Linked DNA regions of Homo sapiens: all the other regions are linked to region 1. Evidence: fine-mapped expression QTL. A gene starts in region 1. Each other region holds a variant in brackets. All regions are shown on one strand. Distances are between the middles of the regions. Region 1 holds the start of TRIM24 (tripartite motif containing 24). Region 2 has its middle 21 kb from the start of MIR4468. Region 3 has its middle 59 kb from the start of MIR4468. Region 4 has its middle 71 kb from the start of MIR4468. Region 5 holds the start of LOC124901755 (a long non-coding RNA gene). Region 6 has its middle 100 kb from the start of MIR4468. Region 7 has its middle 12 kb from the start of MIR4468.

What was found. PIP is the estimated chance that this variant, and not a neighbour inherited with it, causes the effect.
Region 2: its variant is fine-mapped to the expression of TRIM24 in whole blood (INTERVAL, PIP above 0.99).
Region 3: its variant is fine-mapped to the expression of TRIM24 in whole blood (TOPMed, PIP above 0.99).
Region 4: its variant is fine-mapped to the expression of TRIM24 in whole blood (TOPMed, PIP above 0.99).
Region 5: its variant is fine-mapped to the expression of TRIM24 in whole blood (TOPMed, PIP above 0.99).
Region 6: its variant is fine-mapped to the expression of TRIM24 in whole blood (INTERVAL, PIP above 0.99).
Region 7: its variant is fine-mapped to the expression of TRIM24 in whole blood (INTERVAL, PIP above 0.99).

The regions. Positions count from the first base shown.
Region 1 is chr7:138,457,788-138,461,855 of GRCh38, forward strand. TRIM24 (tripartite motif containing 24) reads left to right here and starts at 2,472. Exons shown (of 19, transcript NM_015905.3): 1 at 2,472-3,125. The coding sequence starts at 2,762. RefSeq lists enhancers at 927-1,437, 1,841-2,623 and silencers at 2,134-2,523, 2,584-2,833, 2,864-3,343.
Region 2 is chr7:138,142,487-138,146,554 of GRCh38, forward strand. No RefSeq gene overlaps it. Among named protein-coding and RNA genes, the nearest start is that of MIR4468, 21 kb to the left of the region's middle. The variant C/T (reference allele first, on the strand shown) is at 1,588.
Region 3 is chr7:138,180,752-138,184,819 of GRCh38, forward strand. No RefSeq gene overlaps it. Among named protein-coding and RNA genes, the nearest start is that of MIR4468, 59 kb to the left of the region's middle. The variant C/T (reference allele first, on the strand shown) is at 2,020.
Region 4 is chr7:138,192,952-138,197,019 of GRCh38, forward strand. No RefSeq gene overlaps it. Among named protein-coding and RNA genes, the nearest start is that of MIR4468, 71 kb to the left of the region's middle. The variant T/C (reference allele first, on the strand shown) is at 1,683.
Region 5 is chr7:138,562,720-138,566,787 of GRCh38, forward strand. The region is part of intron 9 of TRIM24 (tripartite motif containing 24); the gene reads left to right. It overlaps LOC124901755 (a long non-coding RNA gene), which reads right to left and starts at 2,984. Exons shown (of 2, transcript XR_007060556.1): 1 at 2,669-2,984. The variant G/A (reference allele first, on the strand shown) is at 2,398.
Region 6 is chr7:138,224,578-138,228,645 of GRCh38, forward strand. No RefSeq gene overlaps it. Among named protein-coding and RNA genes, the nearest start is that of MIR4468, 100 kb to the left of the region's middle. The variant C/G (reference allele first, on the strand shown) is at 2,032.
Region 7 is chr7:138,133,584-138,137,651 of GRCh38, forward strand. No RefSeq gene overlaps it. Among named protein-coding and RNA genes, the nearest start is that of MIR4468, 12 kb to the left of the region's middle. The variant C/CT (reference allele first, on the strand shown) is at 2,347.

The sequences.
Region 1 (4,068 bases):
CTGCGCCCGGCCAGCATCTGATGCTTTTATTCTCCTTGCTGATGCCCTTCTCTTCCAGTTCAGACAGCTTTGATCTCCTCTCTCATAGGTGGTGGTAGTGGTGCAGTTAAGAAACAAGAAACAGCGCATCATCCAATTAGGCGGAAGCACAGGATGGATATGGGAAAGCAGTAACATCAGACAAGAAGATCAGATGGGAATAAAATTGTGGAGAGCTTTGGATGCAGTGGAGAGCCACAGAAAATTATGGGATAAGGGAGGGACATAGGATGAGAGCTGTAATTAAGGAAGAGTAATCTATTGGTAGTGTGGATCTTTGTGAAATATATTTGAACACGCTTTGTAGGGCAACAATATCCAAATAAAGAAATCATATGATTAAGAAAAACAAACAGTAAATTCATTTTCTGGACTTGAAGTTCCATATATGTGAACAAAGTACAATGTACGATTGTTTTACTCATGTGAAATTAGGAAGGCTAAAACGATGGAAGATCATTTTCTGTAAAACCATGGTGATTTGAAAAACTTTAAGCTAGTGGGTTTGATCAAATTACATGGAATTCTTTCAAAACCAGCCTATTCAATTTTACTTCTCAGTTTTCCTTCCCTACCACCATCATCTGGGGAATAAGAGGGACTTGTCTTTAGTAGGCTTGAATCCTGTATACCACCTATGTAATGAATTTTTAGCATATTAAGGGAGTTGATTTTTGAATACAAAATTCCATTCCTATTATGTGAATGTTTTCAAGGTGTAGCTTCAAAAATATACAATATGGTTTGAATTCTGGGGAAGGAGTGTTCAACTTTGGGGTGGCTTTAGGGGATAACAGATAAGTCAGAATTTTGAAGGAACTAAAACAAAGGGAACAGCGTGTACAAAGCAGGGTGGCCTTACAATTGCTGCAGCATGAAGCATGAGAGTCGCGGCGACTTCAGCTTGAGAGGCATATACGGACGAAATCGTGGAGAGATTTGTGAGTGGGTGAAGACCTGTGGGACAGACTTCCGTTTCTGGACCCACCCAGGTCAGAATCACTTGAGATGCTATCAAAATTGAATAACTGAATACGGAGGTGGCCCAAGCACCTGTTTTTCACTAAGCTTCTCAAGTTATTCTTATGCAAACTAAGGTTTAAGAGCTACTTCCATGCAAAAAAACAAACAAACAAAAAATCCCAAGCTTAAACAGGAACCAATGGGTGGGGGAGGCGGGAAGAGCTGTTGAATGTCTTGTGATTAAGTAAAAGAACCTCTCACTTGAGGCCTACGGAGGTTGTGTTTAAGGGCAAGGTCTTGAAGGAAGGCTACGTTGCCTAGCCCTCCCCCATTGCCATCCCATATAGTCCTCCAGGAAAACTGTGATTTTAGCAAAGCCTTTCATGACCCACTCCATCTTTCTCTAAAGTCCAGTACCGCTTCATTAGTATTGACAAAAAAAAAAAAAAAAGGTAAATACTTCTTAAAGTTACGTGTTACAAAATCTTGTTTCCTTCATTCCGTTTCTATTCTTCAAGTTCCTTAAAAGCTGCGCCATTTTTTGAGTGAAAAATGTGCGTAACTTCTGATATCAGCGTAGAGAGGTGAGGGAGGGAGGGAGGGAATAAAATAAGAGGGAGGGAGGAAATACAAAAGAATCCTGAAGTTATGAATTATTTGGGTAACAGTATTGAGGTTTATTTTTGCTTAATGATGCTATATTTATGCAATAAAAACATTTGTCAATCTGTATTAATTCCTGGGAAAACGAACCACTTTTAGTCACTTAAAAAGCAAATCACTGACTTTAAAAATTAATTTCACCTTTTTCATTGGGGAAACCCTTTAAAAATTTCCAACTTGCACGAGAACTTCCCCCCCTTATTCTTCATACTCATTCATTCTAGAGATGAGTAAAATTAGGTTGCAATATCCCTGCTGCCTCCAGAGTACCTCTTTCACACAGTATTTTAAAAAATTATTTCCTTGTTTGCTCTTCAGTACCTCCACTCCTTCCTCCTGTGACCCTCCGACCATATTTACTCCTCCTACAAGACCAGGTCTCCAGTAATGAAATCAGTTTTCCAAGCAGTTACTTAATTAACGGCATTGAGTAGACAAGTGAGGTCCCGCCCCCTAGGAGGAGCTAACACCGCGGACCGAATCAGGCGGATGGTCGTTAACAAATGAACCCTTAATCTTTTCAGAGGAGGAAACATACACAAAGGCCCAATCAGAAGCCGCGATTTCAGGCGTCCGGAGGGGGCGGGGCTGGGCAAGCACCTCCCACTTCCCAACCTCCCGCCGCGGCCGACGGAGCCTCGCGGGCTCCAACAGGTCCCGCCCCCTCGCCAGGCGCGGCCGCTATTGGGCGGCGCGCTCCACACCGAAGCCTCAGTTGCTGGGAGAGGGAGGGCGGGGGCGGGGGCGGGGCCTGAGGTGGGCCAGGGGGATGAAGAGAAAGGCGGGGAGGCAAGGGCGGGCTGGGCGTATTCCACGAGCGCCTCGGCGGTTGGCGAAGCGGACGGGGTGCAGCCTCCCCGGTGCGAGGAACGGTCTCCGCTGACAGATACCCTCCTTCCGGCCGCGCCACTCGGGAGGCGGATCCCGTGGGCCTGAGGAGGCTTCCCCCGCCCGGTTTGCTTTCCCTCCCTCGCTGGCGCTGCCGCGAGTCCACCGAGCGGCCTCTGAGGAGCAGCCGCAGGAGGAGGAGGAGGTCGTCGGGGGCGGCGGGCGGAGACCGCGCTCTCGCTTCCCCGGCGGCGGCAAGGGCAGGACAATGGAGGTGGCGGTGGAGAAGGCGGTGGCGGCGGCGGCAGCGGCCTCGGCTGCGGCCTCCGGGGGGCCCTCGGCGGCGCCGAGCGGGGAGAACGAGGCCGAGAGTCGGCAGGGCCCGGACTCGGAGCGCGGCGGCGAGGCGGCCCGGCTCAACCTGTTGGACACTTGCGCCGTGTGCCACCAGAACATCCAGAGCCGGGCGCCCAAGCTGCTGCCCTGCCTGCACTCTTTCTGCCAGCGCTGCCTGCCCGCGCCCCAGCGCTACCTCATGCTGCCCGCGCCCATGCTGGGCTCGGCCGAGACCCCGCCACCCGTCCCTGCCCCCGGCTCGCCGGTCAGCGGCTCGTCGCCGTTCGCCACCCAAGGTGAGAACCGGCCGCGGCCGCTGGGGAGCCCGGGGAGAGGGCCAGGAGGGGGCGGGCGCCCTTGTGCGGCGCGACCCGCTGTCATGTCGCCGCCGCCCGGGGTGCGCGGCGGGGGAGGGGCGAGCAGGAGGGTCTGTGCTGGCGACGGTGACATGGAGGGCCCGCGCTCTGCGGCGTGTCGCGCTCGGCCAGCAACTTCCCCGGGCGCTGTGGACTTGACCGCGCCGCCGCCGCCGCCGCTGCTCCGCATTCTCAACAGCCGGGCGGCCCCTGCCACTCGCACTTTTGCAGACCTCTGTCGGAGTCTCCTGCAGCCGGAATCTCGGGTTCTTTGCCGGCTGCAGCCAGTTAACTGCTACCCGCCCGCTGCCTCCACAAAGCTTTGTCCAGGTCCATATGATCCTGATCATCTCGTCTATACTCACGTTATTTGAGCTGCAGGGGAGAAGGGAGGGATGAAGATGAAGTGATGGTGACTTTCTTTGATGATTGATTGCAGATCGGATGTCATTTATTTCTTATCTTGCATGTTTGGGGCTCTTTACCTTAATGAGTTCCCAGTTCTCTTCCCTCTCCTCTGCTGGGGACAAAGGAACCAAGAGACGTTGTTTTGTTGTGTGTCTCTTTCAAAGGTTTTATTTTGAGACGGCGAAGAGAAATAATACAAAGTGATTTGGGTTTTCTGGTATTTTATAGATAAAGCTGGAAGTTACTGTTCTCTTTGTGGTGTTTATTACTGTAAAATTAGACTTTTGACAGGTGTTCCATTGCTAACTTTGACAGGTTTGAAACATTTAAAGTAAGTTTGAGTACAGTTTCGGGTAGAACACTTGGCGGTTTTTAAATTTTATTATTGCAAATATTTGAGCACCTCCTTTTTAAAAATACAGTGTAACTGGAAAAGCATTTTTAATACTTTTTAGAGGAAATAGTTGATTTAGTT
Region 2 (4,068 bases), 320 kb before region 1:
TGCGCCTGGCCAGATTTTTAACTGTGGTTAATTTTGTCCCACGCTCCCTCAGGGGACGTTTGGCAATGTCTACACATATTTTTGGTTGTCACAACTAGGGTGGGGGACACAGAGGTGGCATTAGCATCTAATAGGTAGAGGATAGGGATACTGTTAAACATCCTACAATGCACAGGATAACTTCCCACAGCAAATAATTATCTGGCCTCAAATGTCAATAGAACTGGGGCTGAGGAAGCCTGTTAACACAAGACTCTTTCTTGATAGATGCTAAAGGGTACTGGTTCCTAATGCCATGCTTTCAGCTCATTGCATACAACTGAAAACTAATCCTTTTAGGTTTATTTCTATAGCACTTAAAGTAAACAGCCCATCCATTATAATTCACCTATTTTTATGTATTTTATCTGTTCTCAGATTATTAAACTGATAATGGATTTCATGCTTTCAATGTTTGCATTTGAAGCACATGGACAAATGAGTCCCAGTGAAAATGAGTTCATGCAGGAAACAGAAATTACAAATTATAAATTATGTCTTCAGTATAAGCCAAGAGAAAATTGCTCTGATAAATAACAGACTGCTATTAAGATGGAAGCAATAAGACATCAGATTAAGCTGGTTATCTACTTTCCTTCCTGTTCCCAATTTTTAAAAATAACTATGCAGAAAGTCAATTTAAAGACCAAATTCATATCACCTTTAGAATAAAGAAAGCATACTATCGGTGAACTTAAAACTCTCAAAAACAGAAAGCACAAGAGATTGGATTGACAACAAAATAAGAGTAAACTGCAATCCAAAGCACTTGCAGTGAACAGCTTCTGCAAAGACAAGAGCAATTTTAGACATGTTCCAACCTTGGAGTCAATTAAAAATTTAAAAAGCAGAAGCTTTTAGGGAATCAGCAGATAATTCATTAAAGACCTGCACTTCAAAAAGTTACACCAATGACCTCGCACTCCACCAGCGCTATTCCTTGCTATACACACAGAGTTCCAAGGATCTACTAATAGCCACATTTGTTCTTCTGGTTGGAATCCACTTCTTTCTAATCAAAGTGAATACTGTACCTGAAAAGGGCAGGTAACACAAGTATTGAGACTAGAGAGAGAAGCAAAACACTGCCTGGGGTGACTTCAAAGAACCACACAAGCCAGGCTCAATGGCGCACACCTATAATCCCAGCGCTTTGGAAGGCCGAGGCAGGAGGATCTCTTGAGCAGAGGAGTTTGAGGCTTCAGGGAGCTACGATCATTGCTGCACTTCCAGCCTGGGTGACAGAGTCAGACTCTGTCTCCAGTAAATAAAAAAACAAACAAACAAACAAACAAATAAATAAATAAGAATCACACAAAAGGCAGGAGATAAAAAGGAAAGAGTGAAGCTGATTCTGGCATTTACTTCCAGGATGAAGCTGGGGATGGGGGAGAGATGAGACAATGGAAGGAGGAAACAGGAAGGCATATCAGTATTAAAAGGATCTCTTGGGTTATGTAAGGTCAGATACACTATGATTGTGTTATGTATAAATATTACCTCCTAACATCTCCCTGAGGAAGGCAAAGAAGCCAATGACATGAACAG[C/T]CCAACAATTGTCCTGGAAACCCTAAAACTAGTTATCTCCTCTTGCTAAGTCCACCTGCCTTCTGGGAAAGGAGACTCTGAAAGGAAATGTTAAACACCAGAGTCAACTGTGGAAAGCTGAGAAACAATTGCAGCACATAGATTACACCAGCCAACTGCAAAGAAGATCACAACAGAGTTTTGTCCAAAATGGCCTTGGGCAACTAAGAGTTCAAAAGGCAGAACAGAAAATAACAAGGCTCCAAATACACTGATCATGGCCAGGCGCAGTGGCTCATGCCTGTAATCCCAGCACTCTGGGAGGTGGATGGGGGTGTGGATCACCTGAGGTCAGGAGTTCAAGACCAGCCTGGCCAACATGGTGAAACCCCGTCTCTACTAAAAATACAAAAATTAGCCAGGTGTGGTGGTGCATGCCCGTAATCCTAGCTACTTGGGAGGCTGAGGCAGGAGAATCACTTGAACCTGGGAGGCAGAGGTTGCAGTGAGCCAAGAACACACCACTGTACCCCAGCCTGGGCAACAAAGCAAGACTCCATTTCAAAAAAAAATCACTGATCACAACCAAAAAATTCTAGGATCATTCTTCACAGATGTGTGGCATGAACGGATGACCCTTATGCACAGGTGTCATCAGTCAAAGCTGTACCTGATAATTAGCACCATCAATTTCCACCTCTATTTCTATGCTCTTTGAACTGGAGACTGGTGTTAGACACCTTTGGAATGCCTCACACATACATCCTTTGGAGTAAGCTCCTGAAGACAGATTTTACGTAATGTAAAATAATGGCCCCTTGTTGGCTCATGGTGACCTTGCATATATCCATAGACCACATGAGCCAAGTTTGAACTGCAGCTAATCTGAGCCTCGGCCAAACATCCTGCATCCTTCTGAACCTTGAGCACATGGGAGGCTTTTGAGGAGATGCTTGGGGCCATTCTCACTCACTTTTCTATCTGTCAAGGAGGCTGTAATGAGGCAATTCCTCATCTCCTTCCAGTGTCTCATGAGGTTTGAGTCTTTCTGTTACCTAATGGGGTAACAGCTGCGGAGCTGTAACATAGCTAAGCAGTAGCATAGCAGTAGCTACCCCAGCAACAGAGCATACCATTATTCACATTGCAATCATCTGGGCCGTTTTCTTTTAGTGTTGCCCTACCCAAGGGAGTAAACACAGGAGACTGTCTTATTATAAGAGACATGGAAATTGAAAAACAGAGAGAAACAGAGATTATGCTGCTATATTTGGAAGGAAATAATAAAATTACTTAGATTTTAATAATGATTCCCCCAAGGGTCCTAGTGGTTCATAATTATGTCTTTTTTTCTTTTTATTTTTTTGGAGATAGAGTCTCAGTCTGTCTCCCAGGCTGGAGTGCAGTGGCGAGATCTCGGCTCCTTGCAATCTCTGCCTTCCGGGTTCAAGCGATTGTCCTGCCTCAGCCTCCCGAGTAGCTGGAATTACAGGCGCCCACCACCAGGCCCAGCTAATTTTTGTATTTTTAGTAGAGACGAGGTTTCGCCATGTTGGCCAGGCTGGTCTTGAACTCAGGTGAATCCGCCCGCGTCAGTCTTCCGAAGTGCTGGCATTACAGGTGTGAGCCACCGCGCCGGCCATCTTTGTTTCTTTAATTCAGTGGTCCGCAACCTTTTTGGCACCAGGGACTGGTTTATTAGAAGACAATGTTTCCATGCACGGGGGTGAAGCGGGGGCTGGTGGAGGGGGGCGTGGAGGATGGTTTCGGGATGATTCAAGCACATTACATTGATTGTGCACTTTATCTCTATTATTACATTGTACTATATAATTAAATAATTACACAACTCACCATAATGTAGAATCAGTGGGAGCCCTGAGCTTGTGTTCCTGCAACTAGACAGTTTCATCCGGGGGGGGGTGATGGTGAGAGGTGACAGCGTGCTGGCAGTCCTCACAGCCCTTGCTCGCTCTAGGCGCCTCCTCTGCCTGGGCTCCCACTTCGGTGGCACTCGAGGAGGCCCTTCAGCCCGCCGCTGCACTGTGGGAGCCCCTTTCCGGGCTGGCCAAGGCCGGAGCCGGCTCCCTCAGCTTGCTGGGAGGTGTGGAGGGAGAGGCGCGGGCGGGAACTGGGGCTGCGCGCGGTGCTTGCGGGCCAGCGCGAGTTCCGGGTGGGCGTGGGCTGGGCGGACCCCTCACTCGGAGCGGCCAGCTGGCCCCACCAGCCCCGGGCAGTGAGGGGCTTAGCACCTGGGCCAGCAGCTGCTGTGCTCAATTTCTCGCTGGGCCTTAGCTGCCTTCCCGCGGGGCAGGGCTCGGGACCTGCAGCCCGCCCTGCCTGAGCCTCCCCCCAACTCTGTGGGCTCCTGTGCTGCCTGAGCCTCCCCGGCGAGCGCCACCCCCTGCTCCACGGTGCCCAGTGCCATCGACCACCCAAGGGCTGAGGAGTGTGGGCGCACAGCACGGGACTGGCAGGCAGCTCCACCTGCAGCCCCAGTGC
Region 3 (4,068 bases), 280 kb before region 1:
CAAACACAAAGAGAGAAGGAATTGGATGGAAAAAGAGACAATGCCGGTGAAAAATGACTTTAAAAACATAATTGAGGGTAGCTGTAGTGGCTTACGCCTGTTATCCCAACTAATCAGCAAGGTGAGATGGGAGGATGGCCTGAGGCTGAGAGTTTGAAGCTACAGTGAGTTATGATCATGTCACTGGACTCCAACCTGGACAACCGAGTAAGGCTCATCTCTAAAACAATAAAAATTAAATAAGAAATTAAAACCGTAATTGATATCCTCAAAGAGAAAAGAGAAGATATTGAATCTATGAAATGGGATGCTGAGGTAACCCCAAGGATGAGATTATCAAATCAAACTCATAAGAATCAGAGATCTTAGCCAGTATCAAAATTTACTAATTAGGCCAGGTGCAGTGGCTCATGCCTGTAATCCCAGGACTTTAGGAGGCCCAGGCAGGAGGATCACTTGAGCCCAGGAGTTCAAGACCAGTCTGGGCAATATAGTGAAATTTCATCTCTACAAAAAATAAAAATAAATTGGCCAGGTGTGGTGGCATGTGCCTATGGTCCCAGCTACTCAGAAGGCTGAGATGGGAGGGTCACTTGAGCCAGGGAGGTCGAGGCTGTAATGGGCCATGTTTGTGCCATACACTCAAGCCTGGGCAACAGATCTAGACTCTGTCTCAAAACAAATAAACCAACAGAAAACCTAATTATTCAAAGGATACAGGTGATCATGACATGTAGGCAAAACCTGGAAAAGTCTGAAATGACCACTGCGGATCCCCAGTCCTTCCTTGCCACTTTATAACATTCTGTAGTCCAGAGTTAACATGTAAGGTTCTAAGTAGTATATATAAGACATCCATTACACAAATAGAGCTATTTTATTGACAAAAATCTTCTTTTTATACTCTGACAATTACATAGCAGACACTGACATTTTCGAGTGGGCCATGCCTCCATGTATGCATGGATTCCAGAATTGCACAGCAAGAGCAACCTAGCCAGACCCGGTACATCCTGGTAAAATCATTCCAGAAATGAGACCTCTTTCTGCTTGTAGATGCTATCCCATTAGCTAGTTTGCAAGATTTGACTTGGTCCTTTCTATTTTTTTTTTTTTTTCCTGGCATTTCCAAGTCAAGTCGAGTAAGTTACAAACCAGCTGCTAATCCTTTTCTTCCCAGAAGGTATAAAAAGAAACATTCAGAAAGCTCTTAGAAATTAAAAATATGGAAGTGGAAGTAAATACTTCAATAGAAAGGTTGAAACATAATGCCATGGAAATCTCCCATACTGTAGAGCAAAAGGCAAAGATATGAACACAGAACAAATAACAAATATTAAAAGATCAATTTAGGATTTAAGCCAAGTAATAGGAATTCCAGAGAAAGGAAACTAAGTTTTAACATGAGAAAGTGATGCTAGACATAACAGCAACAATTGTTTCCAACTAAGGAAAGCCAATTTCCAGATCAAAAGGAGTCCCCTAGAAACAAGACTACAAATGAGAGGGAAACTACACCAAGGCTCATTGCAATGACGTTTCAGAATACCAGAGACAAAAAGAAGACCCTTAGAACTTGCAGAGAAGGGTAAAAAAAACACATCGAGTACAAAGAATCAGGAATCAGGCTGGCATCAGATTTCAGTGGGAACACTGAAATCTAGAAACCGATGAAGCAATGACTTCAGAATTCATAGCAGAAATCATTTGCAGCCTACTGACAAAAAAAAATATTAATCCAATGTGAGGACAGAATACAAACTTTTTTCTTTACACGCCAAATCTCTATAAGCACTGGAACACAGTCTCTACCCAAACAAGGGAGAATACTAAGGAAAATAAGACATAGGATTTAATAAATAGAGAGTCTAGCACAGAGGAGAGACAATGGAAATTCTGAAAATGGCGGTTAGGAGACCTTTCTCCGTCACCGAGGCTGGAGTCTGGAATGCAATGGTGTGATCATAGCTCACTGCAGCCTCAAACTCCTGGGATCAAGCAATCTTCCCACCTCAGCCT[C/T]CTGAGTAGCTAGGATTACAGGCACACACCACAAAGCTAAATTTTATATTTTTTTTGTAGAGACATGGACTCACTATGTTGTTCAGACTGTACTTGAACTCCTGGCCTCAAGCGATCCTCCCGCCTTGGACTCCCAAAGCACTAGGATTACAGGTATGAGACACTGTACCTGGGCAGACTCTTTAAAACAACAACTATAAAACAAGACTAGAAGAGAATTCACCCAGAATGGAGAGGGAGGAAGGAGGACATGAAATCCAGAACAAATATCAGCAGTGTCTCAAACTGGATGGAGGGATGGATGGATGGATGGATGGGTATGGAGAGAGAGAGAGAGAGAAGAGTAATTGCCATTTATCAACTTTTATTTTAACAGATTCTTCATTTGCATACGAATGCATTATGTATGAATTACAATAGGCAGTACATTCATATAGTTTTTAGAAACATAAAATATCTGTTTTCATCCATGTCTCCGTCCATCCTGACCACCATCTTCCACACACACATCATTATTTACTATTTTCTTTGTTGTTTGTTTGTTTGTTTTTTGAGCCGGAGTCTCGCTCTGTCACCCAGACTGGAGTGCAGTGGCGCAATCTCGGCTCACTGCAAGCTCCGCCTCCCGGGTTTACGCCATTCTCCGGCCTCAGCCACCTAAGTAGCTGGGACTACAGGCGCCAGCACCACGCCTGGCTAATTTTTTGTATTTTTAGTGGAGACAGGGTTTCACTGTGTTAGCCAGGATGGTCTCGATCTCCTGACCTCATGATCCACCCACCTCGGCCTCCCAAAGTGCTGGGATTACAGGCGTGAGCCACCGCGCCCGGCCTACTATTTTCTTTTTAATGTTCCTTAATGTGACAAATAATTTGATATACTCCTGACGTTATATATGTATATCTCAAGGATAAATGCTCATCAGTAGGAGTTTCAGGTCACAGAATAAATGCATTTGTAATTTGGGGGATATTGCCAAATTGCCCTACATAGAGATTCTTTATAACACGTGCAATCACAACAGCAGTGTATGAAAGAGCCTGTTTCTCTGCAGCTTTGCCAAGAATGCATTGTAAAACTTTCAGATTATGCTAATCTGAGAAGTGAAAAATGGTATATTCAGTTTAATTTGCATTCATCTAATTATGAATTGGATTTAACGTCTTTTCATAAATGTTTTAACATTTGTATTTCTTTTTTGTGAAATGTCTTTTCATGTCCTCCACTCTTATTCTATCAGGTCACTTTTTCTCACCAATTTCTCTGTGTGTGTGTGTGTGTGTGTGTATGTGTGTGTGCGTGTATGTGTGTGTGCGCGAATGTATTGAGAAAAGATCTATACTTCTGACAATGAGTTTGGAAACTAAATAATAGTATTGAGACTAGAGAAAGAAGACAAAGGTATTATGGTAAAAAGAGCCAAAGCGTCTTTTTCCACAATAGGGGGATGACAATAAATAATAGCTAAAACTGAAGTCAAGAAATAGCATTAGACAAACTCAGTGGCTCATGCCTGTAATCCCAGCGCTTCAGGAGACTGAGGCGGAAGGATCACTTGGGAACTGAAGTTCAAGCCTAGCTTGGGCAACGTAGTGAGATTCCATCTCCACAAAAAATTTAAAAATTTAAAATAGCTGAGTGGTGACACATGCCTGTAGTCCCAGCTACTAGGGAGGCTGAGACAAGAAGGTCACTTGAACTTAACAGTTTAAGGCTGCAGTGAGCCATGATCATGCCACTGCACTCCAGCATAGGCAAAAGAGTGAGACCTTGTCTCAAAAATATGTATTTTTTTAAAAAATTAGGCTGGGCATGGTGGGGGGACCTCACACCTGTAATCCCAGCACTGACGGGCGGATCACAAGGTCAGGATATCAAGACCATCCTGGCTAACACGGTGAAACCCTGTCTCTACTAAAAATACAAAAAATTAGCCAGGATGGTGGTGGGCACCTGTAGTCCCAGCTACTCAGGAGGCGGAGGCAGGAGAATGGCGTGAACCCAGGAGGCAGAGCTTGCAGTGAGCCGAGATCGCGCCACTGCACACTC
Region 4 (4,068 bases), 260 kb before region 1:
GCCTGGCTATGTTGCCCAGGCTAGAGTGCAGTGGCTATTCACAGACGTGATCATGGCACACTGCAGCTGCAAACTCCTAAGCTCAAACTATCCTTGTGTGCTTCTTAATCTTCCACTGCACCAAAGAATTGTTCTGTGCTGCCATCTTCAAACTAATAGGATCACCATTCTCTTTCCCTGGGCTTTTCCTGGGGCTGCGTGAATGCCAGTATCCTCAGCTGTCAATTCACAAAGGAGAGACCACGTCCACACCCAAGGAGCACATGAGCTGCACAATGACAAGCATTTAAAAATTCTAATATGCAAGGCCGGGCACAGTAGCTCACACCTATAATTCCAGTACTTTGCGAGGCCGAGGCAGGCTGATCACTTGAGGTCAGGAGTTCAAGACCAGCCTGGCCAACATGGTGAAACCCCATCTCTACTAAAAATACAAAACTTAGCCAGACATGGTGGCGAGCGCCTATAGTCACAGCTACCTGGGAGGCTGAAGCAGGAGAATTGCTTGAACCTGGGAGGCGGAGGTTGCAGTAAGCCAAAATCGCACCACTGCACTCCAGACTGGGTGACAGAATGAGACTCCCTTAAAAAAAAAAAAAAATTAACGTTCAAAAGAACTGATTAGGATACCTTTAGAATAAGGTTGAAAGGGATAGAAATTGCTGCTAGTTATCTTATCTCAATCTTAGAATGTTTAAACCGGAAGGGGACTTAAGAGATGAAGATACTGAGGTCCAGGGACACACCAGGGTCACCCTGAGTAAGCACACAGGTCTCCAACCTACTCGTTCACCACTCTCCACTACACTTCCCTCTTTCTCTCATCGACTGTTATGAATCTTAATCCTTTTTCTCTTTTATGTTCGAGGTTTTAAAGGAAGAAAATTAAATTTTTTTCTACTTGTTTAATTCTGTGTCAAAAACCCACCAACATCATGCTAAGCTCTTCATATTTAACTACTAGAGTGAAAAATAAATATGTAAATAGCAGAGATCCATGTAGTGACCCAGGGACATATTCCCTGAGAAAATTATGTGCATCTGCACCAGGATATTTATACAGGAACTGTTTTACCAGGTGGTCAGATGGTGCCACGGGATAAAATATGACATGAGTGTGGCCAAGGTCAAGAAGCAGGTAAGTGCTGCCCAGGGAAGAGAAGACCAGAGCATGAGTCAAGGTCACTGAGAACAGACAACATGCACACCAGGGTCAAGCATCTATTTACAGCAAGACGAGTGAGAACACAAAATCCAGTCCCTTGCAAGATATCGGTCCCCACAACCAGCAGATACACTTCATATCCAATCCAGGCAGCATGGCCACACACAGCCCTTTTTGGGCTGTAGTATGCTGGGCCCAGACCCTTGCCCCATGAGGTCTGAAATACAAAAAGCTGGAGGCATGCCTGACACATGCATGGCTAAGTAGTCTGTTTTTTATTTGTTTTGTTTGTTTGTTTGTTTTTGAGATGGAGTTTTGTTCCTGTCGCCCAGGCTGGAGTGCAATGGCATGATCTTGGCTCACTGCAACCTCTGCCTCCCAGGTTCGAGCAATTCTCCTGACTCTGCTTCCTGAGTAGCTGGGATTACAGGCACCCACCACCATGCCCAGCTAATTTTTGTATTTTTAGTAGAGATAGGGTTTCACCATGTCGGCCAGGCTGGTCTCCAACTCCTGA[T/C]CTCAGGTGATCCACCCTCCTCTGCCTCCGGAAGTGCTGGGATTACAGAGATGAGCCACCACGCCCAGCCTGTTAAGCAGTTTTGAGAAAGGTTTACTTGTGCTCAGTAAAGAGGGAACAGGTACAGTCCGGTGCGCTCTGAGCTCTTGCATGCAATTTGCTTAGTGAGCTGGTCAGCACCTCCTGTACCAAGCACAGCGTTCTTCTTCTTCTTGGGAACACTGGCTGCCTTTGGACCTTTCTCTCACAAAAACATTTGACATCGTACATGTATCCTGATGGTCTTATATACTCAACATTGTTTGCAATAGCCCGTGCAGGAAAAACATTGGAATGGATAAATTGTGAGATGTTCACACAATGAAATACACACAGCAATAAAAGTAAACAGACTAGAGATACGCACGATAATATAAATGAATCTTAAAGTTAATATCATGCAAAAATGCAAGACACAAAAGCATACATGCTAATTCCATTTATATGAAGTTCAAAAATAAGCAAAACTAAACTATTGTTTAGGAATACATACATAATTGGCAAAACACCAAAGAATGGCAAGTGACCAAAAGAAGTGACCAACATTCATAAAAAGCAGAATTGTGGTTCCTCCATGGAAAAGGAGGAGTTTGAGCCAGATGTTGTTTCAAAACACAGGGATATTATGAAATTTCCTGTCTTAATCTAGCTGATAATCAGACAAGTGTTTGCCTTATAAATATTTACTGTACTGAACATTTACTGTGGAGCCTACGAGAATGCACCACCCAGCCCTCCTATTACAAGGAGTATTACTTGACTGAAGGCGTAGATGCATTCAGAACCCCACTGCAGCATTGTGGTAAGGCCAACCCCACCCACAACAATAGGATTGGCCCTGAGGCTGCTCCACTCATGGCTGAGATTGACAGGTAGAGCAGGGCAGAACAGATCCTAGGAGATACAGGAGGCTTGCAACCACAAACTTCAGCTGAGGGGCTCCCCAATAGCTTTGCCAAACCTTCCCTAGACTTCAAGTCAATTTAGGACAAATCTATCTCTCTCTCTTTCACCCTGGGTCAGACTTGCAGGGGAACAATTGCTGTCCTAGCCTTTCCCCAAAGCCTCTCCGATTCCCTCTCTATTTACTTTCCCAAAGGTATTTCTCTTTATAAAATCATTGCACATTTAATCCCTTCTTGGCCTCTGCTTCTCGAAGGACCCCAAGCTAGCAAAATTATGTTTTATTCCCTTTTTTTTTTCTTTGAGATGGAATTTTGCTCTTGTTGCCTAGGCTGGAGTGCAATGGCATGATCTTGGCTCACTACAACCTCCACCTCCCTGGGTTCAAGAGATTCTCCTGCCTCAGCCTCCCAAGTAGCTGGTACAGGCGTTCACCACCACACCCGGCTAATTTTTTGTGTTTTTAGTAGAGACGGGGTTTCACCATGTTGATCAGGCTGGTCTCGAACTCCTGACCTCAGGTGATCCACCCAACTCGGCCTCCCAGAGTGCTGGGATTACAGGCGTGAGCCACAGCGCTCAGCCGTTTTATTCCCTTTTCTACATATGTATTCCATTCCTCAGTGTTAAAAATGTTTAAAACGGTCATGCTGGCTGGGCATGGAGGATAACACCTGTAATCCCAGCACTTTGAGAGGCCAAGGTGGGTGGATGACCAGGTCAGGAGTTGGAGACTAGCCTGGCCAACATGGTGAAACCCCATCTCTACTAAAAATACAAAAATTAGCTGGGCGTGGTGGTGCACACCTGTAATCCCAGCTACTTGGGAGGCTGAGGCAGGAGAATTGTTTGAATTCAGGAGGTGGAGGTTGCAGTGAGATCGCACCACTGCACTCCAGCCTGGGCGACAGAGCAAGATTCTGTCAAGAAGAAGGAGAAGGAGAAGGAGAAGCAGAAGCAGAAGCAGAAGCAGAAGCAGAAGCAGAAGCAGAAGCAGAAGCAGAAGCAGAAGCAGAAGCAGCAGAAGAAGAAACAGTCATGCCAATCTGTATAGCAAAAAAGTGAGGGGGAGTTAAAAATCTGGTGGTGTATCTATGGGGGTTGATGGTGTTGCTGAAATGCCCCATAATGGTTAATATTGTGTCAACTTGATTGGATTGAAGGACGCAAAGTACTGCTCCTGGGTGTGTCTGTGAGGGTGTTGCCAAAGGAGATTAACATTTGAGTCGGTTGTCTGGGAAAGGCAGACTCACCCTCAATCTGGGCGAGCACAATCTAATCAGCTGCCAGTGTGGCCAGAATAAAAGCAGGCAGAAGAATGTGGAAAGACTAGACTGGTTTAGCCTCCCAGTCTACATCTTTCTCCCATGCTGGATGCTTCCTGCCCTTAAACATCAGACTCCAAGTTCTTCAGCTTTAGGACTTGCACTGGCTTCCTTGCTCC
Region 5 (4,068 bases), 100 kb after region 1:
ATTTTATTAAGTAGCCTCTATAATTCAAGTATTCCTGGTTTGTGAGACAGTTCTGGTGGCTTTTTTGTGTATAGCCTCCATTCCTCAGTTTGCAGGACGGTAAGGGTTAACACCATGGCCTTTGGGTCAGTCAGGTTTAGAGTCATATCCCCTTGTAGCCCAAAAGCAATCTGTGCTTGCAGTTTTCAGAGTAGGTCTCTCCCCAGCAGGGGAACTGGGCAATTTGGGAGGTACAGGAATTCATGTTGGACCTCTTGTCCTCCTATAACGAACCTCCTTGGCCAACAAAGTGGCCTCTTCTCTGAGACCCTGGTGACCCCTACAATAGTTGTATAGTTTTTGGATAGTGGTCCTATGGATCGGGTTACTACCAGCTATTCAGCCCCATTGTCCACCATAAAGTCCATTAGCTGGCCCCCCACTTCTAATGTGACCATGGGCTCCTGGGGGCCTAAGGAGAAGGAGCCTGGTCTGTCCTTGTCCTTATATTCTTCAGTCCCTGCCACCCCGATCAGGTCGGTATCTGGTTCCTTCAGGGTGCAGCAGCCTTTGACTGGTGGCATTTTTGTTTCATAGCCTCCGCCATTTTCTTCACTGCCCTCTGGACACTGATTTTTTCCAGTGTCCCTTTTAGCATCATGCACATTGGTGCTTATCTAACCTCAGCCGGCTTTTGAGCCTCTGTCTGGTTTGGCCCCATCTCCGTCTGTGCCCGTGTCCACATCCGCACCCTCTTGCAATGCTAGTTTCCCTTACCGTAAGGGTCACTGCTAACATATTGGCCTTTTTCCTAAGCCTCCGATCTGCTTCCTTTTTTGCCTCTTGGTCACGGTTAATATACATCTTGGTGGCCACTCCTATAAGTTGGGTGGCATTCATGCCTGCGAAATTTTTTAGCTTTTGCATCTTCCACCTGATGTCACCCTGGGCTTGTCCTGCAAATGCCGTGTTCACTGTGCACTGATTTTCAGAGGCCTCAGGGTCAAACGGAGTGTAAAGCTGGAATGCCTCACAGAGTCTCTCATAAAACTGGCTAGGGCTCTCATCAGCTCCTTGAAGAACTTCTGAGATATTTCCTATATTGATTGCCTTTTTCCTGCCTTCCTTTAGCCCTTGCAAGAGTGCTTCTCGGTACCTCTGTAGGTACTGTAATTGGACTGCATGATTTGAATCCCAGTGGGGGTCTGCTTCTGGAAACTGGCCCTGAGTGTATGCCTGAACGTTAAGTGTGCCTTCAGGTGCACTGGCTTCTAGGCAGCAGAGAGCTGCCTGGATTACCCTCCAGCACTCCTCAGTGTTAAACAGTGTCAAGAGGAGCTGCCTACAGTCTGGCCACGTAGGATTGTGTGTCTGGAAGATGGATTGCATTAAATCTATGAGGGCCTGGGTCTTCTCCATGTAGGAGGGGGTATGGTGTTTCCAGTTTAGGAGATCAGTGGTTGTAAAAGGCTGGTAGATGAAGTTCCGTTGCCCCCCTTGGACTTGACCCTGTTCATCATAATAGATGGGTCCCCGTGTCTCCCTAAGAGGCATTTGCATAGCCCAAGCATGACCAGATTGGAGGCAGCCCACTTGATCATCTTATCTTTCTTCCCTGACCTCCTGGGGCTCCGATCTTTCCTTTTGGGGTGAGTCTTGGAGCATGTTACCATCTGAATCTGACTCCTTGGGGGCCGTTGGCCTCAGTAAATGGGGGTAGATTGGAATATATGGAAGAGGAATTTCTATCTCCTCTGGCAGTTCCTGCAAAACTGGTTTCTCTTGCCCTTCCCATGACTTTTTCTTTGTCTCCGTATTTGCCAGCAAAGCTGATTTTACTTTCACTTTAGGCTCGGTCTGAGCCACAAGCATTTTGCAGTAAGCTGCCAGGCAGGGCTGCAACCATGCAGGTCAAGTTTGAACTACATTTAGCCATGAGTCAATATAAGGGAATTGGTCTGGGTGCCCTGGCTGTCCTTCGACCCCAATCACCACCTTAAATACATGGCCAATTGTTTCCCTATCTGTGGTTCCTTTGGCTGGCCATCCGACACTAAAAGAGGGCCATTCTATTTCACAGAGTTCTCAACCTCTGAGGGGTCAACTTCATCCCGTAATCCCCTGCATAACCTTTCTTAAAATTCTTTAACATACATTGTAATGGGGTGGGTTTTGACGACTTCCCTCTCATTTCCTCCCAGTTACAGCGCAACACACTCACTCTCACTTTCACTTCGGACCGATTAGACCGTCCCCCTCGCAGGAGTATTTCAGATGCCACTTAGCATTGGAGGCTCTGTTTTGACCCCCACAATTACTAAATTGTGGGGCACCTCCCTAAGCCATATGTGGAACACTGTTAGTCCCGGTCAGTCCCATGGTTCTCTCAGAGTGTATGGTCTACGCTAAGAGAACTGC[G/A]GCCCCCACACATCACTCCCCGCATTGGTTCCTCCTGGAACCGCCTCTTTCACATGCACTCACACACTTCCCCGCTCCCAGTTCCTCTTTCTCAACTGACTCTGCAAGCCACTCTCATGTCCTGGGTTGGTTGGGGTGTGAGCTTGTGAGCTTCCCTGACTTTGCAAGCCACTCTCACGTCCTGTGTTTGACCACTAGTTACACCCCGGGAGGTGATCAGGCTCCCCTTCCATTCTTATGGGACAGGTCCTGCCTCGGGCTCAAACCTTACCACAATCCTGTAGTGCACTGTTCCTGGAATCATCCTGTTCCTGCTTAGGTTCCATTGTGCTGTCAGGTAGGGTCAAGGGAGAGCTGATCACCCCTCTGGGTTGAAGTTCTCCCAGTGGCGCCTGGGGTCACAGGTCTCTCCCGGCCTGGGGCTCCAGTCTCACAGGCGAAGAGACAGTAAACCTTTCGTCTCCAATCCCGGGCGAGCCCCCAGAAAATGTTTCAGGAATCAGAGGACTGGAGAGACCAATAGGTAGAAGAGGAGGATTTTATTTAAGTGGCCACTGGCCCAACGGATTCACATCCAAAGGCTAGGCCCTGAACAAAGACAGGGCTTGACTTTTATACACACTTCTGAAAGGGGGTTGGCTAGTTTAAATGGCGTGGTGGGAATCTAATGGCATGAAATTCATGGTGTAGGCAAGCAGGCTTACAGAAGCAGAACAAAGGCAGTTAATCAGTGACAGGTTTCATAATCCTTAGCATAGCTTGTGACCTTGCAGCTGCATTGAAGGAAAAACAGGAACTTACAAAACTTGGAAATTGAGTAATGGTAAGGGGGATGAGGAGATAGTAAAGGAATTTGATTTGCTTAAGCTTGCTCTGAGGGGGTGTTGGGAGAGTCTCTGGAGCTCCTTCCTTTGGGCTCTGGCTTTCCAGATAGTTTTATCAAAGCTTTGCCAGGGCCCTGCATATTGCTGGCCTTGGAGTGAGTCAGCTAAGTACAGGGAAACTTGTTTTTCTCTTTTTTATTTCTGCTTCAGCCTCATTTGTGATTCCTTCACCCAGCCTTCCTGTAATCAACCAGGGTTGTTCTTGGAGACTTTGCTTTGAAAATATGTTTTCTGGCCAGGCACAGTGGCTCAAGCCTGTAATCCCAGGACTTTGGGAGGCTGAGGTGGGCTGATCACTTGAGGTCAGGAGTTCGAAACCAGCCTGACCAACATGGCAAAACCCCATCTCTACTAAAAATACAAAAATTAGCCAGGTGTGGTGGGGCATTCCTGTAATTCCAGCCACTTGGGAGGCTGAGGCAGGAGAATCACTTGAACCCAGGAGGCAGAGGTTGCAGTGAGCCAAGATCGGAACAAGACTCCATCTCAAAAAACAAACAAACAAACAAACAAAAAACAGAAAATGTTTTCTTCTATGGAGACTCATCCTCTAAGTTGTAATTACTCAGTATCTTAACAGCCAGCTAAGCACCCGAACATGTTTTGGTAATGATATGGCAGACTAGATTTGGATTAAAGCCTTGGTGTGCTGCTTGGTGTTAGCTGTGTGACTTTTTTCAAATTATGTTTTCAAACTTTTAGTTTCCTAATTTGCAAAACAAAGGTAATAATACCTACTTCATAAGACTCAATAACATAATAATATGTAAAATGCCTGCCAGGGCTC
Region 6 (4,068 bases), 230 kb before region 1:
CAGATCAACTTTACAGAATTGCAAAGTCTCTGGGTTCTAATGAATTATGCCAACAAGCTTAAATTTCCTGAGTCAGATGGTCCTTGGGTGGGCTTGCTAGAAATGTTCTTAGCATGACATTAATCACCTTTCGCCTTAGGTCCAAGTTTTCGATAATGTTCCTTAACATGGGCTAGTGGTAGCCCCGCATATTCACAGCAAAGCAGGACTCAGTACTTGATTGTATAAAAAACAAAATGATATAAAACCAGTATGAACTCATAAGGCATAGTGGAGTGAAGAAGATTTTACTAAAGACTTTACAGTGAGATTGAAGAGAGAGTTACACTGTATCTCTCACAGCAAAACTTACATCCTTCGTTTATCATGATTGTTGTCTTAGCTACATTGCTTCCCCCTTGGCCCTCCCCAATTCTTTCTCTACCTATTCTATTTTTTTTCCTAGTGCAAAGAAATATACCTTCTTCAAACTTGCATCCTCACACCTGGTAGCCCCCAACTCAAGCAATAAATGGGCATTTTACAAATGAAGATCCAAAATGAGTGATCAATTCCAAATCAATTCTTTTTGTTCTTCTTAATGTCACCACTGGTCAGAAGTAAGCCATTTTGCCTCAAGAAGAAAACAAACAAACAAACAAAAAAACACCATATGGATAAGATAATCCAGGCTTGTTAATTTCCAATCATTATTTTAGGACCACTGATACTGTTCCATGTTTTCATATCTGTTATAGCATTTACTATAAGGTAGGCAGCTATTACTATCACTATGTAACAAATTAAGTAGCTGAGCTCAAAGAGGCTGCCGTCTTGCCAGTCATAATAAAAAGCAAGGCTCAGGTCGAGACCCAGGGCTTCAGATTCCAAACTGGGAGCTGATTTCTTATAGCTGAGATCAGAGGTTATAACCCTCTGTTCTGTTAGTAAATCTATGAATTGGTGCTCAATCTAAAATGCTACTTAGAAATAATTAACTAGGGCCAGGCACGGTGGCTCATGCCTGTAATACCAGCACTTTGGGAAGCTGAGGTGGGTGGATCACGAGGTCAGGAGATCAAGACCAGCCTGGCCAACGTGGTGAAACCCCATCTCTACTAAAAAATACAAAAATTAGCTGAGTGTGGTGGTGGGCGCCTGTAATCCCAGCTACTTGGGAGGCTGAGGCAGGAGGATTGCTTGAACCCAGGAGACAGAGGTTGCAGTGAGCTGACACGGTGCCACTGCACTCCAGCCTGGGCGACAGAGTGAGACTGTCTCAAAAAAAAAAAAAAAAAAAAAAAAATTAACTATTATTCTCCTCCTCCAGGATTTCTCATTCTCAGCGCTATTGACATTTTTCTTTATTGCAGGAGGCTGCCTGTGCATTGTAGCATGTTTAGCAGCATTTTGTGCTACTTAGAATCCATTAACTTGATGCAAGTAGCAACCACACACACACCTTTCCCCAATGATAACAAAATCAGCCCCAGTTGAGAACCACTGTTCCGCTCTATGCTGAACTCCTGTGGAATTCCCATCCTCTGTGTTTCCCTCAGCCTGTGAGAACACGAGTGTAGGCCCTGAAAACCTCCTGCCTGTGGCCTCTGTTTGGTCCTCCTGGACTTCCTGTAGGCCCCTTGCCTGCAGTAACCAACATCCTCACTGTGAGCCTTTATCTGTCCTTGGAGGGTGTCCAAAACCTACTCACATCCGCTTGATTCTGTACGCTAGCTCATCCAGGCAGCCTGAGTCCATGGCTATTCAAGACCAGGAGTTAAAATTGAATTGGCTGCCCAAGAATGATTTACTGGAGGCTTCTGGAAATGTCTTCCACAACTGGATTAACTATTTTGATTAATTTGACCCGTCAGTTTGTTAGGAAGGAGAGGAATAGCCATTTAATTTATTTATTCACTTAATTTATTCAACTGAATAATTTATTTAGATGCATTCATTTATTTATTTAACTGATACTGTGACTGAGATGACTTGTTTTTTGACTAAATTGAACAGTTGAAATGATCAGATTAGTTGTGCACTGAGACTCAG[C/G]CTGAATGCAGCTACCATCTCAGTGCAAGTGATTTCATATCCTTTATGCCCCAGAGAATGTAGCTCAGTTAATAAATAATCACAATTTTTATTCAGCAGTTGTTTCTAACTATTCTTTTTTCTTTTCGTTGCAAAGAATATATGATTTTTTTTCTTAAATTTCAAAAACGGTTGTAAAAATAATGTTTGGGTACCCTTGTGCTGATATGACTGACTGTATCTTTCAGGCAAGAGAGAGCGTCATTCACTAGCACATACACATAACTCAGTACAATAAATGTGTGTCATTGTACATCAATGGTGGATTTCCTGTGTGATGGAGGGGAGAAAAAGAGAAGACAGAGCAGAGGGTTCTCTTCACACTAGATTTCTTAGGGAGCTCGTAAAAAGGATTTACTGTATTTTGATTAATCCATCCTTCATCCACCTTGAGTGTCTCCATGGCAACCGGATATTTGTTTCCCAAAGATTGGCTTTCAGACTATGGAAGGTTCATTCAGCTCCATACAAAACCCCCTGTATTGCTGAGAACCACATATTTGAAATTCAGTGTGCATAGACAACCACTCCCAAACCCTTGTCTGTGTTACTGATGCCAGTGCTACTATCATTTTATCAATGACAAGACATGATCAATTTTTGAGGCATTTTCTCAGAGTTAACACAGACATCTGTTTTGCCTCTATTCCTCAGTAACATTAAGTATTTTAAGCTTAGCTTGAAGGAAGCGAGCTAAGTAGCCATTATGGGACTGAAAAAAAGAAAAAAGAAAAAAGACACCATGTCAAATGTTGGTTAGAGTATTTCAGGGCATAGGTCTGTAGTACTGCACCAATTAGATGCTCTTGTAAATAAAAATAATATCCAAAATTAATGATCCTGGCTGGGCGCAGTGGCTCACTCCTGTAATCCCAGCATCCTGGGAGGCCAAGGCGGGCGGATTACTTGAGGTCAGGAGTTTGAGACCAGCCTGACCAACATGGTGAAACCCCAGCTCTACTAAAAATACAAAAAAAAATTAGCTGGGCCTGGTGGCGCACGCCTATAATGCCAGCTACTCAGGAGGCTGAGGCAGGGAGAATCGCTTGAACCTGGGAGGTGGAGGTTGCAGTGAGCCAAGATCATGCTGCTGCACTCCAGCCTGGGAGACAGAGCAAGAATCTGTCTCAAACAAACAACAAAAAGGAAATAAAAGAAATTAATAATCCCTTTCTTAGCCAGGCATGGTGGCGTGCACCTGTAGTCTCAGCTACTCAGGAGGCTGAGGTAGGAGCACTGTTTGAGCCCGGGAGGCAGAGGTTGCAGTGAGCTGAGATTGCACCACTGCACTCCAGCCTGGGTGACAGAGCCAGACCCTGTCTCAAAACAAACAAACAAAAATTCAGTGTGTACTAGCATGCAAAGGACACACATTTCATAGATGAGGTTGCATGATTTGCCCATTGTCTTACATGAGTTAGAAACCTGGCTAAAACGAGAGTGTGGAGATCCAAACTCCCAGCACACAGCTCTGCAGACACCACACAACAGGGCTACCATCCTCGGCTCCCAGGCCAGCCTGAACAGTGCTGCGATGACGGACTGTGTGTGAGTCCTCCTCTCTCTGAGAAGAATTCATTCCTTCCTGCCTTTCCCAAACTCTCTGCTCTTCAATATGGAAAGATGGCATGGATCGATGGATGGATGGATGGATGGATGGATGGATGGATGGATGGATGGATGGACGGATGGATGGATGGATGGACGGATGGATGGATGGATGGAATAAGCTCTGGAAAATAACATCAATTACTTTTTGTTTTGTTTTGTTTTAACCACATATCCCCAAAAGGTATTATCTGGGGGCAATTTCACTTTATTCTTGTATAAATACCTTATATTCTTCGGTATTCTTTTCTTTTTCATGACCACAAATTACATTTATAATCAGCAAAAACAACAAAAAAGATTTCCATTTTGGAAAAAAACAAAAACCAAAAAAGTAGTCTCCAAAATCCAAAATAGACACCAAAATAAATCTATTTCTGATGTAAGAAA
Region 7 (4,068 bases), 320 kb before region 1:
GTGCCATATAAATGTTATGATTTTTTTTCTATTTCCATGAAAAATGACATTGGCATTTTCATAGGAATTGCATTAAATCTATAGATCACTTTCAGTAATATAGACAAGTTTCCAATATTGATTCTTCTGATCCATAAACATGAAATACCTATTTATTTGTGTCTTCTTCAATTTTATTCATTAATTCATTATGTTTCATAGTTTTCAGTATACAGATATTTCACCTTTTTGGTTAAATTTATTTCTAATTATTTTATTCCCGTTGATGCTATTATAAATGTGACTTTTTAAAAAATTTCTTGTTCAGATAGTTTATTGCCAAAGTATAGAAACACAAGTGATTTTTATATGTAGATGCTGTATCCTAAAACTTAACTGAATTCATTTATTAATTCTAACACTTTTGGGTAGAATCTTTAGGTTGTTCTATACATAAAATCTTGTAATCAGCAAACAGAGACATTTTGACTTCTTTTCTGATTTGGATGACTTTTATTTCTTTATGTTGCCCAATTCCTTTGGCTAGGACTTCAGTACTATGTTGAAAAAAAAAGTGGTGAGAGTGAGTGTAATATTGTGATATAATAAAATATATATATACTTGGTCTCTGTCCCTGGTTCCAGGCACAAAGCTGCTAAAATCCTTGAAATCTGCAAAGCGATATGTATTTTTGTATGCTAATGAGATGGCTGATCACTGAGTACTCCTAGATAACCACAGGATAGTTGCCAGGGGTGCCAACCATGTGATTGGAGGGTTGAAACTTTCAGCCACACCCCCCACCTCTAGGGAGGGGAGAGGGGTTGAAGGCTGATTTGGTCATCAAAGGCCAATCATACCTACCTAATGAAGTCTCCATTAAAAACCTAAAGATGGCTGGGTGCAGTGGTTCATGCCTGTAATCCCAGCACTTTGGGAGGCTGAGGCAGGCAGATCACCTAAGGTCAGGAGTTTAAGACCAGCCTGGCCAACATGGTGAAACCCCATCTCTACTAAAAATACAAAAATTAGCTGGGCATTGTGGTGCGTGCCTGTAGTCCCAGCTACTTGGGAGGCTGAGGCAGCAGAATTGCTTGTACCCAAGAGGCAGAGGTTGCAGTGAGCTGAGATCACACTGCAGCACTCCAGCCTGGGCAACAGAGAAGGAACTCTGTCTAAAAACAACAACAACAATAACAACAACAACAAAAACCTAAAGAGACAGGTTTTGGAGAGCTTTCTGGTTGGTGAACACATTTACATACTGGAAGGGTAGTGTACCCCAACTCCATAGGGATGAAAGCTCCTATGCTCCGGACCCTTCCAGACTCCACCCTATGTATCTCTTCATCTGGCTGTTCATTTGTATTCTTTAAAATATCCTTTGTAATAAATAGGTAGATGTAAGTAAAGTATTTCCCTGAGTTTTGTGAGCCACTCTAGCAAATTAATAGAACCCAAGGAGGGGGTCTTGAGAACCCCAATTTAGAGCTGACCGGTCAGAAGCACAGGTCACAACCTGAGGCTTACCATTGACATCTGAAATGGGGGCAGTCTCAAGGAGCTGAGTCCTTAACCTGTGGGATCTGACTCTATCTCTAGGTAGATGGTATCAGAATTGAGTTAAGTTGTAGGACACCCAGTTGGTGTCTGCTGGAGAATGGCTTGGAAGTCTGGTGAAGAGCCCCTACACATTTTGCATTAGAAGTGTTGTGCTGAGGGGTATGTGGGATTAGGAAAAACACTTGGTGTTTCCCATTTCTTAATAGTGGACATCCTTGTCTTGTTCCCAATCTTAGATAAAAGATATTCATCTTTTCACCATTGCGTATGATGTTAGCTGTGGGCTGGTAATATATGGACTTTATTGTGCTAAGGAACATTCCTTTTATAACTAATTTGTTCAGAGTTTTAATCATTAAAGGATGCTGAATTTTGTCAAATGCTTTTTATGCATCTATTGACATGATTTTTGTCCTTCACTTTGTTAATACAATGTATAACATTTACTGATTTGCATATGTTGAGCCATCTTTGCATCCCAGGCATAAATCCAAGTTGATCATGGTGAGTGATCCTTTTAATATGCAATTGAATTTGGTTTGCAAGTCTATTGTTGAAGATTTTTGCGTCTACGTTCCTCAGGAATATTGGGCTGTAATTTTTTTTTTTTTTTTTTTTGGAGTGTTCTTGTCTGGCTTTCATGTCAGGATAATATTGGCCTCACAAATCCAGTTGGAAAGTGTTTCTTCCTCTTTAATTTTTTGAGGAGTTTGAGAAGTACTAGTACTCATGCTTCCTTAAATGTTGGTAGAATTCAGCAGTGAAGCCATCAGGTCTAAGGCTTTTTTTTCTTTTTTCTTTTT[C/CT]TTTTTTTTTTTTTTTTTTTTGAGATGGAGTTTCGCTCTTTCGCCCAGGCTGGAGTGCAGTGGTGCAAGCTCTGCTCACTCCAACCTCCGCCTTCCAGTTTCAAGCAATTCTCCTGCCTCAGCATCCCAAGTAGCTAGGATTACAGGTGCCCACCACCACACCCAGCTAATTTTCATGTTTTTAGTGGAGACAGGGTTTCACCATGTTGGTCCGGCTGGTCTCAAACTCCTGACCTCGTAATCGGCCCACCTCGGCCTCCCAAGTGCTGGGATTACAGGCATAAGCCACCACATTGGCTTATTAGTGATTTAATATTTAATCTCCTTACTGATCTGTCCGAATTTTCTATTTCTTCATGATTCAGTCTTGTCAGGTTGTATATTTCTAGGAATTTATCTGTTTATTCTAGGTTATCCAATTTGTTGTTATATAATTATTCATAGTAGTCTCCTATGATCCTTGTATTTCCTTCTTTTTTTTTTTTTTTTTTTTTTTTTTTGACAGAGTCTCACCCTATTGCCCAGGCTGGAATGCAGTGGCGCGATCTCAGCTCACTGCACCCTCTGCCTCTTAGGTTCAGATTATTCTTGTGCCTTAGCCTCCTGAGTAGCTGGGACAACAGGCGCACACGACTATGCCCAGATAATTTTTGTATTTTTAGCAGAGACGGGGTTTTGCCATGTTGGCCAGGCTGATCTCGAACTCCTGACCTTAAGTGATCCACCCACCTTGGCCTGGGCCACTGTGCCCAGCCAATCCTTTGTATTTCTGTGTTATCTGCTGTAATGGCTCCTCTTTGGTTTCTAATTTTATTTGAGTCATCTCTCTTTTGTTCTTAGGCTAGCTAAAGGTTTGTCAATTTTGTTTATGTCTTCAAAAAAGTTTTGTTGATCTTTTCTATTCTTTTCCTATTCTCTTTTTTTTTTCCTGCTCTGATCTGTATTATTTCGTTTCTTCTACTAACATTGGGCTTAGTTTGTTCTTCTTTTTTGAGTTCCTTAAGGAATAATGTTAGATTACTTATTTGAGATCCTTCTTCTTTTTTAATGTAGGTATTTATTGCTATAAACTTCCTTGTTGGAACTGTTTTTACTGCATTCCATACATTTTGTTATGTAGGGTTTCCATTTTTGTTTGTCTCAATATATTTTTTTTAATTTCTCCTTCAATTTCTTCTTTGACCCATTGGTTGTTCAGGAGTATGATGTTTAATTTCCATATATTTCTGAGTTTCCAGTTTTCCTTCTGTTATTTATTTCTAATTTCATACCACTGTTGTTGGAAAAGATAGTTGACATAGTTTCATTTTTTTTAATTTTTATAAAATATACAAAAATATACATAGATACATATAATAGATTTTTATAATAAATACATTAAAATATACATAAATAGAGTCTTGATACGTTGACCAGGCTGGTCTCAAATTCCTGGCTTCATGCGATCCTCCCATCTCAGCCTCCCAAAGTGCTAGAATTACAGACAGGAGCCACCACTCCTGACCACATTGTTTCAATTTTTGAAATTTGTTAAGACTTGTTTTGTGGCCTAATATATGATCTTAGAGAATGTTTTATGTGTGCTTCAGAAGAATGTGTATCCTGCTGCTGTTGGATGGAATATTCTGTATGTGTCTGTTAGGTCCATTTAGTCTAAAGTATAGTTCAAGTCCAATGTTTTCTTATTGATTTTCTGTCTGGAAAATCTATCCATTGTTGAAA